Regions from separate parts of the Homo sapiens genome. Here region 2 is linked to region 1. The links come from fine-mapping of genetic effects on gene expression. Tissue or cell type: lung. Region 1 holds a variant in brackets; the other region holds the start of a gene. All regions are shown on one strand. Distances are from middle to middle.

Region 1 (10,461 bases):
TACATCAATAATAAAAAGAATACATGAAATATATATATACAAAAGTCCTAAAATATGATATTGCATATATAGACGCATATAATAAAAGCTATACAGAACTGAAAGTGAACTATAGCTGCCTTTAGAAATACACGTGAGACTTTCAAATATAATAAATTATCCTGACAGAGTTTATTCTGTACCATTTCATTTAATAAAATTTTAAACTAATATTAAAATTAAAATATTAAAATTCTCACTTCAGAAGTGAGAATATTTGTTATCACTGGAGACTCTTCTCCAGCGCAGTGGCCTGAGATGACAACATGAGGGAACTCCTAGAGGGCTGACGATGTTCTGTTTCTTATGGGTACTGGTTACTGGGTGCACTTGCTTTGGACAATTCATTGAGCCACGCACTTATTATTTCCATATTTTTAGGCATACGAAATGCTATGCTATGCTATGCTTCAACACACAAATTCACAGAATCAACCTAAATGCCCATAAATGGAAGACTGGATAAAGAAAATGTGGTGCAAATACACCATGAAATACTATGCAGCCATAGAAAAAGAATGAGATCATGTGCTTTGCAGGAACGTGGGTGGAGCTGGAGGCCATTATCCTTAGCAAACTAAGACAGGAACAGAAAACCAAATCCTGCATGTTCTCATAAGTGGGAGCTAAATGATGAGAACACATGGACATGAAGAGGGGATCAACAGACAATGAGGCCTAGCAAAGGGTGGAGGGTGGGAGGAGGGAAAGGAGCAGAAAAAATAACTATTTGGTCCTAGGCTTAGTACCTGGGTAATGAAATAGTCTGTACATCAAACCCCTGTGACATGAGTTTACCTATAAAATAAACCTGCACATCCACCCCTGAGCCTACAATAAAAGTTTTTTTAAAAAAACAAATTCAAGCAATTGGATCTGGACTTTCATTTTTCTGGTTAATCCCAAGGCCAGCAGGCATAGGGGTTGGTTCAAGACTCTGGCATCGTAGCATCTAGATTCCTGTCCTGGGTATCACCACTTCCTATCTCAGAGATCTTGGCCACGGTACTAACTCTCCAAGCTCCAGTTTCATTATCTGTAAAAGGAGTTAATTATGCTTCCCATTTCATAGTTATTCAGAGGATTAAATCCTCACAAGAAATACTAGCTCTTGCGGGACTTCATGTTGTTTTTTGTTCTATGAACTATGGAGAAGACAGATGATGACCTGTGGTAAAGGAAGGAGAAGCATGAGGTTCAACCCAAAGATGTTGTCAAGGTGAAATGTAGACAGGGCCTCTTGGCTTGAACCGATAAATACAATCTATAGTTGTAAATTTTGAGGCCATCCATTAATAAATCCTCCATTCCTCCCACCTTTGTCTATAATTTTGTTAATAACGCTCGATGACATCATCAATCAGAAGATAGCCCAGGGCAGGGTCTCCCCTGAAATTCTCCCTCCAGGTGACAGTGATCCATTAAGCAGCCTGCTATGTGGCAAGAAGGAAAACGGGTTTGGATGTGTGTTGCTGCCACAGCAGCAGCTAAGAGCCCCAGGGACTTGGCTGCTGGCAGCATCCTCTACCAGAGTTTTCCTTCGACAGTGAGAAGACTCCCGGAGTCCTTAGGAGCCAGGATCTGGCTGTCGGGAGACAGCATTCATTCATGCATTCATTCAGTCGTTCTTCATTCATTTGAAAAAACATATTGAAGTCTTCTACAGGCTAGATGTGCTATGTCCTTATAATAAAGGTCAATAGGACACAATGCCTGCCCTCAAGGAGCTTGCCTGTCTAATAGAGAGTAATATCACAGCCAGAAGGACTCTATGAAAGAATCCAGCCAGGTCATGCCACTCTTCTGCTCAATACTCTGCGATGGCTCCCATGCTCCTCAGAGTAAAGTTCAAGGTCCTTCCCACAGCCCCATAGGACCTGGCCACCCCATAGTTCTTGTCCACCCCCCGTCCTCTCCCCTGCAGCCGCACCGCCCTCATTTTCAAACACAGCAGCCAAGTGCGCGCCTGCCTCCAGAACCTTGCACTGTACTTGTCTTTTTTTGTCTAGATGCTCTTCCCCCAAACACCTACCCTCCCTTCCTTGCAAGCCTTTCCTCGGAAGACACCTTCTCAGGGAGGCTTTGTCAAGCCCCACCCCATCTAAAATTTCAACACTCCCCAGCACTTCATATCCTCTTCCTGATTTATTTCTTCTTCTCAGGACATCTTCCTCTCTAATATTCTCTACCCTACTTACTAATCTTGTTTAATTGCCATCTCTCCCACCAGCATGTAGGCCTCTGAGAGCAGTGGGGAGCTGTGGATTATTTTGATGTGGTTTTGTTTGTTGTACCTAGAACACTTAGATTAGTGACTAATACAGTATATAGAAACTGGGAAAAGGAAGGAAGGGAAGGGAAGGGGAGGGAAGGGAAGGGAAGAGGAGGGGAGGGCATGTTCTCCTTACAACTCGATCCGACTCCCCTAGAAGAGGGGGCAGGGAAGGAGGGCAAAGCTAGGAGAGTTGAAGAATATTAAGAAGAGAATAAGGTAGCCAGAGTTAGCAAATAAAAATATAAAATGCCTAGTTAATTCTGAATTCCAGATAAAGAACAAATAATTTTTTAGCATAAGTATGTCCCAAACTAAGAATGGCACAAGACATATTTATGCTAAAGAAATTACGTATTCTCTAATAATAAATTATTTTCTCCAATGCACATTGATTTTGCATACTGTATTTTATCTGGCAACCCTAAAATAGAAGGACTACCCCCGTACTGCTTCACTCCAGCTGGACTCTTATCCTCTGTGACTACTCTCCTACCTTAGGAAAGATCCAAGTGGCCCCTTTCCTCCTCATCGCCATCCCTTGCCCTGCACATCTCGTTTTCCTGTGTCGCAGCAAGTCCAGCGCCTCCAAGACTTGGCTCTTCTCTCCCTCCTCAAACCCTTAAAAGAAAGGGCCAAGTCTGAACTCTTTGCCTTTGAGTCGTGGAGACACCAAAGATATTTAGGTTATAAGTCAAAGGGGAGAGGGAAGTCACATAGGTCCCACGGGCCTCAGACCTGCCACGTGTCCTCTCCCTAAGTCTCAAAGCTTAAGAAGACAAACCTTATGCGGCAGGAAGTGTTGGTTATAGCTGTTTTGCCACTCCTTCTGGTTATGTTATTTCTGTTCTTCTGATACTACAGCCCCCCTAGGTCATGAATTTCTCTGTCCATGCTAAGTTTAATATCTCTGCTCAAACCTTGTTAAACTGCCTCCAGAATAGGAAACTCTTCTTCCTGGCCTCATAAAGCTTGGAGCCCTCTCCAATGTATGTTACAAAATTTCTCTCTAGGCTTCTCAGAGGATTATAGGCTCCGCCTTAAAAAAGGCAAACTCTGGACACTCTGTGGAGTAGAATGGCCAAAGTTTAGAGTCAGGTGCACCCCCGCCCCCAGAAGGGTCACTGAACCTCGCAATTGTTCAGACTGTGTGGCGGGTTGTTGCTGGAACTCCCGGTCACCCCGATCAGTTTCCCTACATTGATCAATGGCTGAGTTTGGTCCGGAGCCCTCCTCCACGGCTCCGCTCATGCGCCATTCATAATTCTACCTCCAAGGTCCTTTTGAGCCAGACCTCACTTTCGCCTCGACCCTCAGCCGGCTCGGCTCCTCCTGTATTGCCTCCTTGTGAGGAAGAGGAAAGTTTCCTTCACCCAGTTCCACCGCCTTATAACCCTCCTGCTCCCTCAGAATGTTCTCTTGTCTCCTGCACTACCTCCCCTGTGGGCTCTCCACCTATTGCCTCCTGATCGCGGCCACGGCAGGAGGAGGTAGCCCCCCTCCTCCCGCTGAGGAGGCACAAGTCCCTCCGGGCGATAAGCACTCAGGCCCATTCTTAGTTTATGTCCGCTTCTCTACTTCTGACCTGTACAACTGGAAGACTCATAACCCCCCCTTTTCTGAAATGCCCCAGGTCTTGACCTCACTGATGGAGTCCATGCTCCGGACTCACCGGCCCACCTGGGAGGACTGTCAACAGCTCCTTTTAACCCTTTCCACCTCTGAAGAGAAGGAACGTACCCGAAGAGAGGCCAGAAAATATTTCCTTACATCAGACGGTAGACCAGAGGAGGAAGCTCATAACCTCCTAGAGGAGGTTTTCCCTCTACCCGGCCTAATTAGGATCCAAACTCCTCAGGCAGGAAGAGAGCTTTAGATGATTTTCACCAGTATCTCCTTGCGGGTATCAAAGGAGCTGCTCGAAAACCCATAAATTTGTCTAAGACATTTGAAGTTGTCCAGGGACCTGATGAGCCACC[G/C]GGGGCGTTTTTGGAACGCCTCCAGGAGGCCTACCGGAGTTACACCCCTTTTGACCCGGCGGCTCCCGAGAATAGCTGTGCTATTAATTTGGCATTTGTGGCTCAGGCAGGCCCTGATATTAAAAGAAAATTACAAAAACTGGAAGGATTTGCTGGAATGAACATTAGCCAACTTCTAGAGATAGCCCAGAAAGTTTTTGACAATCGAGAGTTTGAAAAGCGAAAACGGGCAGCTCAGGCAACTGAAAAGGCCGCCGATAAGGCATCCAAAAGACATGCGAAAATCTTAGTGGCGGCCATCCAGGAAGCCAAGAAGGAAAGGCCCCCATCACAGAGGAATGGCCAGGGAACCCCAGGTCCCCGCCAGAAAGGCAAGAAAGGCGAGCAGGCTCCCCTGGAGAAAAACCAACATGCTTATTGCAAGCAGACTAGACACTGGAAAAAAGAATGCCCATTAAAGCCAGAGGAAAAACCAGAAAAGAAAAATTAAGTCCTCACCCTCCCCGCAGCGGAGGAGTCTGATGACTGACGAGACCGGGGCTCCTTCTCTCTTGGCCCCCAGCAGCCCACGGTGACCGCCACAGTGGAGGGCCATGGTGACGTCCGGTAGCCTACTTGTCTTAAGAGGCTAGACCCTGTGGCCTCCACCAAGTAGCCAAGTTGTCTGTGAGCAGTAGCAGCAACAGCGAGCCTGGTCCAGGAAGCTGATAAACTGACTCTGGGCCAAAATTTAACCCTTACAGGTCCTCATGCTGTAGACACTTTACTATGAAGTGCCTCTGGCAAATGGATGTCAAATGCCCGCATCCTGCAGTATCACAGTTTACTGTTAGATCAGCCTCATTTAACTTTCTCTCCCACAAGATGCTTAAATCCAGCTACCTTGCTCCCTGACCCAGACCTTACCACACCTGTCCATGACTGCCAAGAACTGTTAGAGACTACGGAAACTGGCCGACCTGATCTCCAAGACGTGCCTTTAAAGGAGGCGGATGCCACTGTGTTTACAGACAGTAGCAGCTTCCTTGAGCAGGGAGTTCGAAAGGCTGGTGCTGCCATCACTACGGAGACGAATATACTGTGGGCCCAAGCACTGCCAGCAGGTACCTCGGCACAGAGGGCTGAGTTGATTGCCCTCTCTCAGGCCCTCCGATAGGGTAACGACGAACGTATTAAAATTCACACTGACAGCAGGTATGCTTTTGCTACTGTGCATGTACATGGAGCCATCTACCAAGAGCATGGGCTACTCATCTCAGCAGGAAAGGCTATCAAGAACAAAGAAGAAATTTTGGCCCTGCTTGAAGCTGTTTGGCTCCCTCAACAGCTGGCTGTAATTCACTGCAAATGACATCAAAAAGAAGACATGGCCATTGCCTGTGGTAACCAAAGAGCAGACTCTGCAGCCTGGGAGGCAGCTCAACTCCCAGTCACGCCTCTGACTCTGCTGCCTGCAGTGTCCTTTCCGCAACCTGACTTACCAGATCACCCAGAATACTCCCCAGAGGAGGAAAAATAGGCTTTGGATCTTCAGGCCAGTAAAAATCAGGAAGATTGGTGGATTCTTCCTGATTCCGGAATCTTCATACCCCAAGCTCTCGGGGAAACTTTAATCAGTCGTCTGCATTCTACCACCCATTTAGAAGGAGGAAACCTGGCCCAGCTTCTAAGGAGCCGTTTCAAGATCCCCCACCTTCAGGACTTAGCGAACCAAGCAGCTTGTGCCCAGGTGAACGCCAAGCAAGGTCCTAAACCCAGCTCAGGCCACCGCCTCCGGGGAGGCTCGCCAGGAGAAGGTAGGAAATTGGCTTTACAGAAATAAAACCACACCAGGCAGAGTACAAATACCTTCTGGTACTACTAGACACCTTTTCTGGATAGACTGAGGCATTTGCCACCAAGAACGAGACTGCCAGACTGCCACCACGGTAGTTAGGTTTTCACTCAATGAAATCATCCCTCGACATGGGCTGCCTGCTGCCATAGGGTCTGATAATGGACCGGCCTTCACCTCGTCCATAGCTCAGTCAGTCAGTAAGGCACTAAACATTCAATGGAAGCTCCATTGTGCCTCTCGATCCCAGAGCTCTGGGCAGGTAGAACGCATGAACCACACCCTAAAAAATACTCTTACAAAATTGATCTTAGAGACCGGTGAAAATTAGGTGAGACTCCTTCCTTTAGCCCCTCTTAGAGTGAGATGCACTCCTTACCGGGCTAGGTTTTCACCTTTTGAAATCATGTATAGGAGGGCTCCGCCTATCTTGCCTAAGCTAAGGGATACCCATTTAGCAGAAATCTCACAAGCTAATTTATTACAGTACCTGCAGTCTCTCCAACAGGTACAAGACATCATCCAGCCGCTTGTCCGGGGAGCTCATCCCAACCCAGTTCCTGACCAGACGGGGCTCTGCCACTCTTTCCAGCCGGGTGACCTGGTGTATGTTAAAAAGTTCCAAAAGAAAAAAAAAAAGGACTCACTCCTGCCTGGAAAAGACCTCATACTGTCATCCTCACCACACTGACGGCTCTGAAAGTGGACAGCATTCCTGCTCAAATTCATAACACCCCCTAGTACCAAAGCATGTTTAACTGTAATCCATGACTAACTACTCTAATTACTGGATTGGCGGGACCCCTTTCTCCTCCTCTTGTTTAGTCTTCAAACCTCGTAAGTTAAAACTGGTTTCTTAACTTTATAAAGCAACACATAGCTTCTGTCAAACTTATATATCTTAAAGTCCAATATAACCCTCTTGTAACAAGTGGGGAATATGATATGCTACCTTGTTTTAACCTGAATTGAGTCTCCCTTAGCTGAGAGAGCCAGACAAACTCCATTTTGGCTCCTTCACTTGCAGCTCCTTGCCCACCCAATTCCTCAAGGACTTAACTTGTGCAAGCTGACTCCCAGCACATCAGAGTGCAATTAACTGATAAGGTCCTGTGGCAAGTTATGTCCGCAGTTCCCAGGAATTCGCTCGGGTGATAGTATCCTAAGCCCCTGCATTTGTATCCAGTAGATAGCACCCAAAGCCCTTGCACCCATCACCTTGTGATGGATTTAAAGCCCCTGCACCTGGAACCATTTGTTTTCCTGTAACCATTTGTCTAACTTTTTTTTGCCTGTTTTACTTCTATAAGATTGCTATAGCTAGGCTCCCCTTCCCCTCTCTAAACCAAAGTATAAAAGAAAATCTAGCCCCTTCTTCAGGGCTGAGAGAATTTTGAGCGCTAGCCGTCTCTCGATCGCTGGCTAATAAAGAACTCCTGAATTAGTCTCAAAGTGTGGCGTTCCTCTATTACCCACTTGGTTACAACAGCTTTATATTAATAATTGTAGTAATAAAGTTGATCGCACATAGGATGGAGGAGGCACCTGCCTGGTGAGATGAGACAATGGTCGGATTCACTGAGGCTCCTGCGTGTCCCGGATTTCCCGCTGGGGGAGGGTGTTCCGCTCAGCGGTTCCCACACCTGCTTCCATGGGAGAAGCAAGAAGAAGTCAGAAGGGTGGGCGAAGGAGTCAGAAGCTTCTATTATTGGTTCGGGGAGATGCTGTGTCGGGGGCATCAATTATATGGGGAACCAACCAGTTGCCAACTCCTGACCCTTGGAGTTGACCCCACACCGCTTAAACCTCTGCGCTGGTTCCCCGGGGGCCCACAGTGAGGTCTGTAACTCAGGGAGAGGCGCTGGAGCGGGGTGTGGGAGAATGGTGTGCAGGACGGGCTCCATGCACTTTGAAACTATAAACTGCCTTATGAGACAGGGGTACGGTGTGTGTGCATTTTCCTGGGAGAGTCCATAGTTTTTACCACATTGTGTAAAGCAATGCTGTGCAGTAGAAATATTACGCCATACACAATACATATGTACAGTTTTAGTTGTCAAAGAAACTGAAAGAAGATCTTGATGAACACGGATGGCATAGATGTGAGGAAAGCACCATTATTAAAGAATATTTATGCATTTATGTAATGCATTAAAAGGTAACAAAATGGATAAGCAGGTAACACAATAGCAAAGACCGAGAGTGAACTGCAGTCATCCACTGGGGAACTGAGGAGTCAGGGTTTCTCATTACAAAACTCCCTGATGGAAGACTATTACTTATCAACTATTTATTGTCTTTCCACTAAATAAGAAGTGATCGTCATCTTTTCAGATGAGCACCACAGACTTTGCAAAAGATAATTGCCAATTAACCTTTGTGCCTGGATTTTCTCATTCCTAAAAATAGATAGTATTACATGACTCCAAAGTTTGTTGTGAAGTTAATTGGGGTGGTGTATCTTAAAGTAACAAAAATGTTGACCACACGGGGGGGGGGTGGTTAGTGTAAGACTCTCTGTTTTTCTGTCTATATATATATATATATATATATATATATATATAAAAAGTATAGTTTAGGTTTACATAAAGACAAAGTATCATAAAAAGGGGTCTTACAATCGGTAGTACTAAAAAAATTTTTAAACTCCAAGATCTTCAATTTTAATGTATAAAAATAATAAAACATACTGATAAATAACAGAAGTTCTATAGTCAGACAACATAGGTTCAAGTTTGGGCTTGATCTCAAGTAGGGTTTCAATGTTGAAAAAAAATGCCATGTGGTCTTTCCAACTTCATTTCCTTATGTAACATAGGAGATAATAATAAATTCACTGTGATTAAGAGTTAAATGGAATAGTTCTTGAGAAGGTGTTAGAATGGTTCTAACATACATGGGTATTATGAGCTAATATTTGTAGTACCATTGTAGCATAAGGAAATACCATCTGCTGAGAGAGGCACAATAATGATTATCTTCATGATAATAGTTTAAGAGCTACCAGATACAGAACGAAGGGGCCATAAAATGATAATGTTATGAATGATTTTGATGCTTACGCCAGAATCCATTCTAGGATAGCTCCTGCCTGAAAAGAACTGGGATTCATTTCTTTGGAATCACAGGACACTGAGTGTGGCAAAAAGAAAACAAAAGAAAAATATGGAAATCACATATGTGATTTTAACATAGAAAGAAATAGGAGAGGCTGGGCGTGGTGGCTCATGCCTGTAATCCCAGCACCTTGGGAGGCCAAGGCGGGCAGATCACCTGAGGTCAGGAGTTTGAGACCAGCCTGGCCAACATGGTGAAACCCCGTCTCTACTAAAAGTACAAAAATTAGCTGGGCATGGTGGCAGGTGCCTGTAATCCCAGCTACTCAGGAGGCGAGGCAGAAGAATTGCTCAAACCCCAGAGGTGGAGGTTGCAGTGAGCCAAGATTGTGCCACTGCACTCCAGCCTGGGAAACAGAGCAAGACTCAGTTGAAAAAAAAAAGAAACAGAAGAAATTAGCAATATATTTCATTTACTCCAATGTATCCAAATTATGGTCATTTTAGCATGTAATCAATATAGATTTTAATGAGATAGTCTATGTTCTTTTTTCCTAAGTCTGAAATTCGGTGTGTATTTACACTGACAGCACATCTCAATTTAGACTAGCCACATTTCCAGTGCTGAGTGGCTGCATGTACCTGGTGGCTACCACACTGGACAGCACAGGTCTAAGGATTTCATTCCTGGTTCAAGACCAGACTCCTAGCCTTGGTTTTGGGTGTTTTTCACAAACTGGCCTCTCTTTATCATTCTTTTTCCTGGTACTTCCTCAAGGATGACTGTGTCCCCACCACTCAAGACCACTTGCCGTTTCACTACGTACCTTTGTTCAAGCTGTTCCTTTTACCTGGGATGCTCTCTCGTTTCGTTTTGTTTTGTTTTTCTGAGACAGGGTCTCACTGTGTTGCCCAGGCTGGAGTACAGTGACATGATCATGGCTCACTGCAGCCTCCACTGACCTCCTGGAGCTCAGATGATCCTCTCACCTCATCCTTCCCTAGCAGCTGGGACTACAGACCTGCACCACCACACCCAGCTAATTTAAAATATATATATTTGTTGGTAGAGACAGGAGTCTATGTTGACCAGGCTGGTCTTGATTCTTCCACCATGGCCCCCCAAACTTCTAGGATTATAGGTGTGAGCCACTGCTCCCCACCTGGAATGCTGTCTCTGCACCTTCTCCCTGGGCCTGGTAGAGAGGCACACATTCTGCTGAGAGGTTTTTTCCTGACTTCCCTAGCCCTAGAAGGGAATTTGTCCCTCCTTAGCATTGT
Region 2 (10,461 bases), 43 kb before region 1:
AACAAAGGGATAGGCAAATATTTTTTATACAAGACACACATAAAAAACCACTAACTATAAAAATAAGTAAATAAACAAAAATAATAAATAATATATTGACAAGGTTGTTAAAAATAAAATATAGTAAAAGTAGATTAATTGAACTTTATTAAAATAAAAAATATATGGTTCATCAAAAAATACCTTTATGTGAGTGAAAAGACATGCCACAGAGCAGAAGATTATTACAATATATGTCTTTCAAAGCAAATCTTATCTAGAATATATCAAGAAATCCCACAGATTTCTTGTGGGAATTTCTTGTGCTCACGCCTGTAATCCCAGCACTTTGGGAGGCCGAGGTGGGCAGATCAGGAGGTCAGGAGATCGACACCATCCTGGCTAACACGGTGAAACCCCGTCTACTAAAAATACAAAAAATTAGCCAGGCGTGGTGGCGGGTGCCTGTAGTCCCAGCTACTCGGGAGGCTTAGGCAGGAGAATGGCGCGAACCCGGGAGGCGGAGCTTGCAGCGAGCCAAGATTGAGCCACTGCACTCCAGCCTGGGCTACAGAGTGAGATTCCGTCTCAAAAAAAAAAAAAAGAAAAGAAAAAGAAACCCCACAGATTAATAACAAATGACAATAAAAATCTTTATAAATGGGTCAAATAAGTATTTCACAAAAGAGGCCATTCACACAGCCAATAAGTATATGAAAACCTGTTCAACTTCATTAACTATCAAGAAAATACAAATTAAGCTGACCATGGTGTGCATGCCTGTGGTCCCAGCTACTCCAGAAGCTAAGGAGGGACAATTCCTTGAGCCCATGAGGTGGAGGCTGCAGCGAGCTATGATCACACCATTGTACTCCAGCCTTAGCAACAGAGTAAAACCACGTCTCAACAACAACAACAACAAAAAAAAAAAAAAGAAAGAAAAAAAGGAAAGAAAATGCAGGTTATATAGCACTGCATTCCCCAGATGCACTAGAATGAAAAGAACTAACAATACCACGTGTTGGCAAGAGTGTGGAGCTACTAGTGCTTTTGTCTGCACTTGGTGGGCGTGTAACTTGAACCACAACTATAAGAAACTTTCTGTATCTGCTAAAGCTACATGTAAGAAAAAACCATGACCTAGCAATTCAATTTCTTAGGTATCTACCAAACTGAAATGAGCATTTATGTTCACCAAAAGTCATATACAAACACATTCAGAGATGATGAATGTTCATTCATCATCATCAAAAAGTGGAAGGAATAGAATGGATACAGTGTGGGGTGCTCCGGCCATGGAAGATTACAAGACAGTGAAAGGCAGTGAGCTCCTCCTGTCTGCCACAAGAGGGATGAATTTCACAGACATAATGTGGAAACAAGGAAGCCAGTCACAAAACAGTCCATACTGTATGATTCCTCTCATTCCCACTGATTTCAGAAACAGTGTTTGGAGGTTACTCAATTGTCGTGAAAAGAAAATCAGGAAAGACACTGACACACCAATTTACTATCAAGGGTAGGGTAACCAATTGCTATTTGTAGTTGTCCTGTGTAGATAAAGGATTCAAAGCATGGAACAAAACACCTTTGGTGTTAGACGTAGGCAGGAGTAGGTGAAGCTTGATCTGGTTTTTCTCATCTCCCTTCCTTGGCCTGGTCAGCTTCATCATCAGCATTTTCCTCCTCCTCACTCCTCCCCCAGTATCGTTATTCTAATTTCTGTCGTTTTTTTTCCCCTAGGAAATATACATTTTCTAGAGCCCAATCTGCCAGGAGAGATCTAAGAGATTACAAAGGAAAAAACTTGAAATTCTGAGGACAGAGAAAAGAAAAAGGAAGAGTTAATGACTAGTGAGACACCATCATGTAGACTGGTGCCACATGGAATCTGGGGCAACAGAACATGATCTATCCAGATGGACATACAGGGAAAGCTGGTGCTGGGAAGCACCTTAAGCTACATGATTGCAATAAATTTTGCTCACCAGTGATTGTGGGGGCTGAAGTATATTTCTCTTTGTTTCCAGTGTTGCCCAAGTTTGAAGTTAAAGTCAATGCACCATGAACAGTAACTATTTCAGATGATGGATTCCAAGTGGATGCGCGTGCTAAGTAAGCATTTATTCAGGAGATTTGCCTTCACAAGGAGACACAAAGCTTAGAGATAATAAGTGAGATTAACCAGGGAACTTAAATTATTTATATGCTTGCATTAATATTATTAGAGAAGCAATGTATTCTCATTGTAGAATATTTGAAAAATATAAAGAAAAAGATTAGAAATTACGTAAAATTAATTCTACCAACAGCCATTAACATTGTGATTTATTGTTCTACCATAAAGAAATACATACACACATGTTCATTGCAGCACCATTCACAATAGCAAAGACATGGAATCAACCTAAATGTCCATCCACGGCAGACTGGATTTAAAAAAAAATGTGGTACATGTGCACCATGGACTACTCTGCAGTCACATAAAAGAACTAGATCATGTCCTTTGCAGGGACATGGATAGAGCTGGAGGCCATTATCCTTAGCAAACTTACAAAGGAAAAGAAAGCCAAATACCGAATGTTCACATTTATAAGTGGGAGCTAAATAATGAGAACACACGGAGACAATAAGGGGAATAACAGACATTGAGGCCCACTTGAGAGTAGAAGGTCGAAGGATAGAGAGGACCAGGAAGAATAACTATTGGGTAGTAGGTTTAGTGCCTGGAAGACAAAATAATATGTACAACAAACCCATGTGACATGAGTTTACCCATCTAACCTACATGCACTTGTGCCCCTGAACCTAAAATAAAAATTAAAGAGAGAGACAGATACACAAGCTCAAAACCAAGGACTGAGAACAAGCTTCTGCCTGGAGCAGGAATGGATGACATGGTTCACCAATCCTGAAAAGGACATGGAAGTGATAGATATACCAGTAAATCCAGATATGCTCATGGAAAACAGATGTAGAGGGAGAAGTTGTATTTAGCTTAAGGGAATGTATTCTGGAAATAAGGAAAATAGAATGCATGAGAAAAGTGGTTAATGGTCACTGATGTCTACTGGTTGTTGTGGAAAACAGTCAACAGTCTTAACTAAAAAAGAGATGAACAGACTTTTAGGGGAGGGTCACAGAGTCTAAACTTCAGTTATAAAACAGAATCTCAAAATTAGCTAGCTAGCTAGATAGATAGACATATTTATTTTCCTCTAATTTTTAATGAATATTTTTCATGACTGCCATCATATTTTTCTGTTCATGATAACTAAGAAAACTTGTCTCTATATTATGCCAATCTTTTCATAAATTCCAATTTTCTGCTGCATAAACATATCTTTATGTGACTACACGAAATTTATTTAGTTATGCTTTTATTATATAACATATAGATTATTTCATTTTGTTTTCCTAGTAATTAATAATTTTGTAGCATATGTCTTTGTGTATAACTATATAGTAAGTAGCTTTTGAATTAGGAATTGTTCACTTAAGAAAGATTTCCAGAAGAGGAATTACCAAGACAAAATATGCAACATTCTTTTAGTCTTCTGATTGCCATATTGCTCACCAAATATGTTGTGTCAACGTAGAATTCCAGCAGCTAGTATGGAAGTGCCTGTCTCACTGAATCTTCACCATCATTACATATTTTCATTAAAATAAGAAAACAAGCTATTGGAATGTCATTGTGAAGATAAGGCATCATCCATTTAATTTGAATTAATTGGAATCTTCTTAATGTTACAAAATAAGTCCTATATGATTTGAGAAATTTTTATTTTCTTTTGGGGGAATTATTTTCAATGCCTTTTATCCTTTTTTAGTGTGATTCTTTTTCTCAAATTTCTAATAATAATTTTTTAAGAGCTAATATTTTTGAATGTCAATTAGTGTGATAAGCTCTGCATATATGATTGCTACAGTGCTATTAGGTAGGAGCAATCATCACCTCTATAAGGAAAGATACTAAGACACCGATAATTCAAATAACTTATCAACAGTAATGGAGCTTGTTGATGAAAGAACCGGGATTTAGACCTAGGCTGTTCGGCTTCAGAGCTACTCTCCTAATCAATAACTCTCTTGCACTTTACATAAACAGTTAAAAATATTAATATTTGCCATATTTGTTAAACATTTTGTTTAGTTGATTACATGAAAATTACTTGCCTTTGAGTATTTTCAGCAGACTATTAGAGATACATTGGGTAAAGGGCCGTCTAATGAACATGCAAGGGGAGTTCTTAAGGATGCCCCAGAGATTCTTGGAAACCAGTTTTCAGCCTTTTTTTTTTTTTGGTAGTATTTAACATCTTCTTTGGATTCCAGCAAAGTGATCCTAAAATTTTTCTCAGTTTCAATGAAGAGCAGTTGAACTTGTGCCAGAATTCAATTTATGTAATAGATGAAAGATTGTAGATTATCCATGTTAAAAATGATGGGATAATCAGAACAGCTTGGACAAATCCAGGATCCTAAACAGGCTTCACTAGAAAACTCTACACAAAGCCAGAACTTGCAATGGCATTAATATCTCATTTATTTATCTGCACAGTAGTATGCTAAAAAAAACTACAACACATTGTTTGGGAGAGCAAAACTGTTTCTCAAGCATGGCCTTTGAAAAAGACTTGCTAACCAAATGCTTACATGGAACTGATGGTTCCTTAGCACTACGTCAGGTTATAATCCATGATCCTGATTTCTTGAAACTTCTTTAATATATTCTGGGTAGACTTACATTAAAAAGTAAATTAGTATCAGTAATAATAATATCCTGCCAGGCTGCCAGGCAGCTAGACTGGAACTATGCTTGCTACAAAGTTATTTCCAGACAGACTGTGAGCACACTGTGCCTAGAAGTTCACATCAATTTTATAATACTGTGTCTCAAATTGTATGATACTGTGTCTGTGCATTGCTTCTTTAGTACTTCCTGGGATTTAGCTTGGAATGGCTAGAGAAAATGAGCAAATTAGATTATTTTAGTAAACAAACTCAGAGATGAATTAGGCTTTTAAGAGAGGAAAAACACTTACAGGTGAAGGTATTTTAACAAATCGCTTTAGCATCCATGGAAAGCTTTCAAATCACAAACAAAGGGAGAATACTTATCCTATCCCATAGAGATTTAAGCTACATGTCTCATGGGCATATATTAGCCTGCCAATAATACTAGGGTGCGAGTTTGATTGTATACATGAGAAACATTAAAAAGAAATAATAAGAAATGTTTAGGCATAACATTTGTGGCTGAATCTTAGTCTGGCTTCTATATGATCATCAGACGTGACAGATGATTTCAGTGATATGAGTTGAGACAGAATCTCAAATGTGTTATGAAATTTTTAATAGAAAGAGAAAAAGATGAGTGGGAAGGAAAAAGCACAGACTGTGGAGTGAGGCAGATCTGAGTCTGAATTTTAGTTTCATCAATTACAATGTGGAAAAGTGAGTTGCTTGACCTTGAACATTTTACAGATTGAGAAATTGAGGTTTAGAGATTAATTTGCCCAAAGTCTCATAGCTAGCGAGTAAGAAGCTAGAGGTTTCAAACTGGGGACTTTCTGATGTCAGAGCTCAAGCTTGTCACCACCGTGCTCCTGGGGAAACGGTCAGGAGAAAGCCAAGTTTCCAGGAAACTGGAATGGCCGCAGTGAAGAATGACCCTCTTATATCCTGCTGATTAGATGACCAGACTTGGTCATCACAGACTTTGAGCATCACAGTGGAAGAGGGGCCAGAAGAGGAGGGCAGTTTCCTGTGTTGCTCCGGAGTTGCCTCATGTTGCCCACATTTTTCTGGGGCTGACATATATTTTTCCAGTAGGTGTGACCTGAGGGTGTTGGGGCTTTACTTTTGTGCTGGTGCAGGCAGTTTTCAGGCTCATATAAACACTCACTCGGCTGTTTATTTATTCATTCAACAAGCATTTCTTAGACACCTCCTCTTCTAATTCTTGGGCCAGTAAATAAGTATGGTCCCTGACCCAACAAATCTAGCTCAGGTTCAGAGATGCACAACCTCATTCCAGCAAAGCTTTCTGTAGATTATCGGGGGCAGCTCTTACTACCCTTGATCTTTCCCACTTCTCAGCTATTCCTGTACCAACAGAAAGCTCTCCCATGGAGGAATGGCAAAGAGATGGAAAAATGCGGCTGTGAATTGGGCTGAAGTTTTGGGGAAGGATGTGGAAGCCAGAGACTAACAAGAAGTTTTGATAGTGGGTGTGATGTCCCTCCCCCTCCCTGCTGTTCCATTTCCTTGGGCACTTAGGCTGGTCTCATGATCTAAGGGCCAACTGCTCATGTGAAAATCCATCCCAGCATCCTCAGCTCAAATAACTGCTGCTTGCCACACGCCTGCCCCAACGGAATTAACGGAAGCTGCTGATAGCCCTGCTGACCTCATTGGATGGAACCGTGTCCTCAGCAGACAGGAGCTCCTTCCTCTTCTGAGTGAGACTCCCTCCTATCTTGGAGCAGGAAGTCCTCTCAGGAGAAGTCCAAGCTTCAGACAGAGAAGGAGCAGGTGCCATTCATTTACTCCCCTCAGTGTTGACCCAAAAGGCAGAGGCTGAGACGCAAAGCATAATTTAAAGAGTTTACTTGAGCCAAAGTGAGGACAGCTGCCTGGAAGACTCAGACCCAAGTACTCTTGGCTGTGAGCTTCCTAGAGCCTTTGTTCCAAGCAGGTTTTTAAAAACAAAAGACTGGGACCGAGAGAGTGGGCTGGTACAAAGTTGTTGATCAGGAACTCTCTTTGGATTACAGAAACAAAATTGATGAGCAATTGGTTATTGTTAAGTTATAGGATGTGGTTTATGCTTCTGGTGAGACACTATAATAATCCTAAATTAAAATTAATTCATAGCTACTTGTGGCAATAGCAAGCAGTTTTAAGAGATGAATACATAGCTCAAAGCGGGGAGTAGGGTGTGATTGCTCTCATTTTAACGTCTCTCCAGGCCTCATAGTTTAAAAAGGATTCACCTTCCTCAGATGAAAGCTCTTTAGGTTTTGCATCAGGAACCTCCTTTTCTGCTTTCTTGGAGGGTCAGGATGGGTCCCATGAAGAGCTGCTGGTGGGGACAGACAGAAGCCAAGGAGAGGCCGGGCAAGGAAGCTGAAGTGCTTGGCAGGGGGCAACAGTCCCCTGCCTGCAACCAACGTTAAAAAACACTGTCACTTCAGGCCGAAAGTGGTAGAAACCAGTTTGTTAAATCACACGAATGTATATATTAGGCATGCCTGGCTAGTCCTTTGCCAAGAGATCTTGTAGCATAACTGCAGGCAAATAGAAAAGACATGAAAATCGTTAATCACTGCACAAGCTTAGGGATCAGTTCTTTTTGGAGGGTGGTGAGTGGTGGAGGTACTGGAAAATGTGTACAGAAAGAGTGAAATAAGTGGAAGAAAGGCCCTAGGACTCAGGGTTTGCTTACAGTGGGATCAGAGACACCTGGAAGGATGAAGACAAAAATCCAGATTATAATTGGCCCTGGGAGTGAGACTTCATGACAATTGTGTTACCTTGAGAATTTCTTTTTAGTTCCTGGCTTCAGATTTAAGGTTATGGTTGATGGATGAATATACTTTTGGAATCTACTTTTGGAAGACCTTCTCTGGGCTGAAGTTGATAGCTAGGTTAAAATATCAAGGACTTCGGTAAATCTCTAGCAGAGCTTCACTACAGCAGAGAGGGAAAAACACCAGATTTAACATTTCATTCTTGGTGCTGCTGAGCTGTGTGCTCTAGGACAAGACATTTAACTTTTTCAGCTGCGTCCTAGAAGGATTCACACCTATCTCCCAAGACTTTGGCAATGATTAGGAGGGAGAATAACTAGGAAAAAGATAAGTGAACTGTGAAGAGCTGTGACCTTACAATGGTGACGGTGACGGTGATGATCTTTATACTCTTGGGAGGGTTGGTGCAGATTCTTGCCTGCAGCAATCATAAGCAGAGGCTAATGCTTCCATCTTTAAGATTCTCATAGTAAGGTTAAAAGATACTGATATTACCTAATGTTTAACATAACTGGACCCACTACCTACTGCTTCATGCACAGAAGTTACAGGGCTGAGGGACCCTCCATTAGCCACACTGAGGATCTGGGTTATAAATGAGTGGAATGTGTAAGGGGAGAAGAGATCTTTAGCGATCTTTGAGAGCAATATTAGCAGTGAAATGAATGCAAACCACATCTTGCCTCTTTGAAGTAATAAAGGAAGGGAAAAAAGTTATGCAAGCAAAGAAGTGCTTTTGTTTCCCCAGCCATGAATCCTGGTTAAAAATTGCACACAAACCACAAGGACAGTCAATACCATCATCTCAACTCCTAATGTGCTGTGTTTCAGGAAAAAAAAAAAAAAAAAACTAAACTAAAATTAAAGCAGTATCACACTGTCTTTGACTTGCTAGCTTTATATTCTTTTGTGAAAATCTCAAGACGTTACCCATCTTCAGAGGTAGCTCATTCCTCCCAGGCATGGAGCCGGGGAGGGTAAATGAAATGTCTCATACAACTCAGTCATTCATTTGCTCAGTGTTTATTAAGACCTAACATGTGCCAGGCTCTCTCCTAGGTGGGGCTAACTAAAGTAAGCCCAAGAGGTACTGTCCTTAAGGGGAGGAAAGACACGTACTCCAGTATCTGTATTTGGGTAAAGAAAGTGATTTGTCAAGAGAGAACAGGATTGGGATTGTTTAAAGTATGTTCACAGCCCACAGACCAAATGGACTCCCTATGACTCACTGAGGTACTCATATTTAAAACAGAAACCCAGTGGCTACAGCCGGGTGTGGGAGCGATCACATACTCTGTGTTCTCAGAAAGATATAAGAGCATCACAGGACCCCTCTTTTCACAATCAAGCCAAACCAGCGCCTGCTGTTGCTCCCAGGACAAACTGCTGCTGGGCCCCTCCCACCACCAGCCAGCCACAGTCTGACAGAGACTCCCAGTTTAGGGCTTGGAAACCAATCAATCAGAGCTCATCTGCTCGGTTAATCAGGGCTCAGCTGCATCAGAGGAAAGCAAATGCAAATGAATCTGGGTTCATATGCAAATGAACCTGATGGGGAACCTGGGCAGCAAATTTTGCTATAAAGCCCGACTCCTCTCTGTTCTCTGAACGCACATTCATTTTACACTGAACTCTGGTCTCTCAGTGTTAGTCCAAACTGCACCATGTCATAAGCTCTCCCTGCTATTTTGCAGACCTTAGTCAAAGTGAAACAGGGGTTCGGGTGTGAGAAACGTCCTGCCTAACCACCTGACCACAAGGCAGACAAAGGCCTAACCAAAGACACATCTCTATCATATCATGCTGGACAAAGATCCGAGGAACACCACAACGAAATCCCACTGGAACAAGGGCCAGAACCATCTCATCACGGGAACATCTTATCAATATCCTGCCAGGCAGCAAGCCATACTGCCCGGACCCCTTTGGCCCATAAATTGCCCCAGCCTGTAAGCAGCAGTGGGCTCTGGCATTATGCTGGTTCCTGACTTCTGTAGGTTTTATGCTGGACATAAAGCCTGCATTTGCTATTAAGCCACCCTCTTACGTATGTCTTTCTTTAACCCTCGCCTTCCCTTCAAAACCTAACACCCAGTTTTGTCCACTGGAATAAAGTCTCTTTCCTCCAAATACCTTTTCAGAAAACATTTGTTCATGGGGTTTAGAAGGAGGAGTAGTTATTTCTAGGAAATCTAATCAGCTGGAGGTAGACTGAGTTGAGTGCTTGGAAAGGAAACAGTGGGCAATACTACTAGAAATAGATTTTGACCAGATCACAGGTGGCCTTGAATGATGAGATAGGAATCTGTGACTTTAATTTCAAGGAATAGGGGTCACCGAAGCTTTTTGAGCAGGGGAGTATTATGATCATCTGGCTGTAAATAAACCCTGAAATGTAGAATCTCATTTTTGAGAATGAACTTAGAAGATAATTACATGGGTAGGTTTGAGGATGACTTGAGGACATTTAAAAAGGGCCTAGCAGTTTTGGCTTGCCCTCCTGCTAATAGCATTTGCTGCTTTTCATTTACACTTTATCGTGCACGGAGAACTCTGCATACATACAAAGCAGAGTCTAATTTTTCCTAATTCATCTCTGTAGCCAAAGTAGACTCGGACACTTAAGAATATAGACAACACTCCTACCTAAAATGCCCAGAGAGAAATTTTACATGGCTAAAAGTGGGAGCTAGCTACCCCAGCCCAGAGGTGTTTCTTTCTAAGAGGAAGGGCACTGACACAGAAAACTGTACTATGCTGCAGTGACCAGAAGAATGGACCCTCCCTGCACCTGCTGTGGAGGAGGAGGGTGGGACGTGGCAGTGCACCAGACTCTGCTCATCTCAGTTCAAGTCTAGGCATTGCCACTAATCTGTGCGACCTTGAATGAGTCACTTTTCCTCTCTGGGCCTGAGTCTCCACATCTGTTAATCGAGAGGTGAGA

Evidence for each region. PIP is the estimated chance that this variant, and not a neighbour inherited with it, causes the effect.
Region 2: LINC02367 starts here. The variant in region 1 is fine-mapped to the expression of LINC02367 in lung (GTEx, PIP 0.96).

The regions. Positions count from the first base shown.
Region 1 is chr12:9,320,140-9,330,600 of GRCh38, reverse strand. No RefSeq gene overlaps it. Among named protein-coding and RNA genes, the nearest start is that of LINC02367, 42 kb to the left of the region's middle. The variant G/C (reference allele first, on the strand shown) is at 4,291.
Region 2 is chr12:9,363,294-9,373,754 of GRCh38, reverse strand. LINC02367 (long intergenic non-protein coding RNA 2367) reads right to left here and starts at 6,291. Exons shown (of 4, transcript NR_120479.1): 1 at 4,159-6,291. It overlaps LOC101928030 (a long non-coding RNA gene), which reads left to right. Exons shown (of 2, transcript NR_120481.1): 2 at 1,723-1,973. RefSeq lists silencers at 9,039-9,148, 9,279-9,338 and enhancers at 8,750-9,266, 10,456-10,461.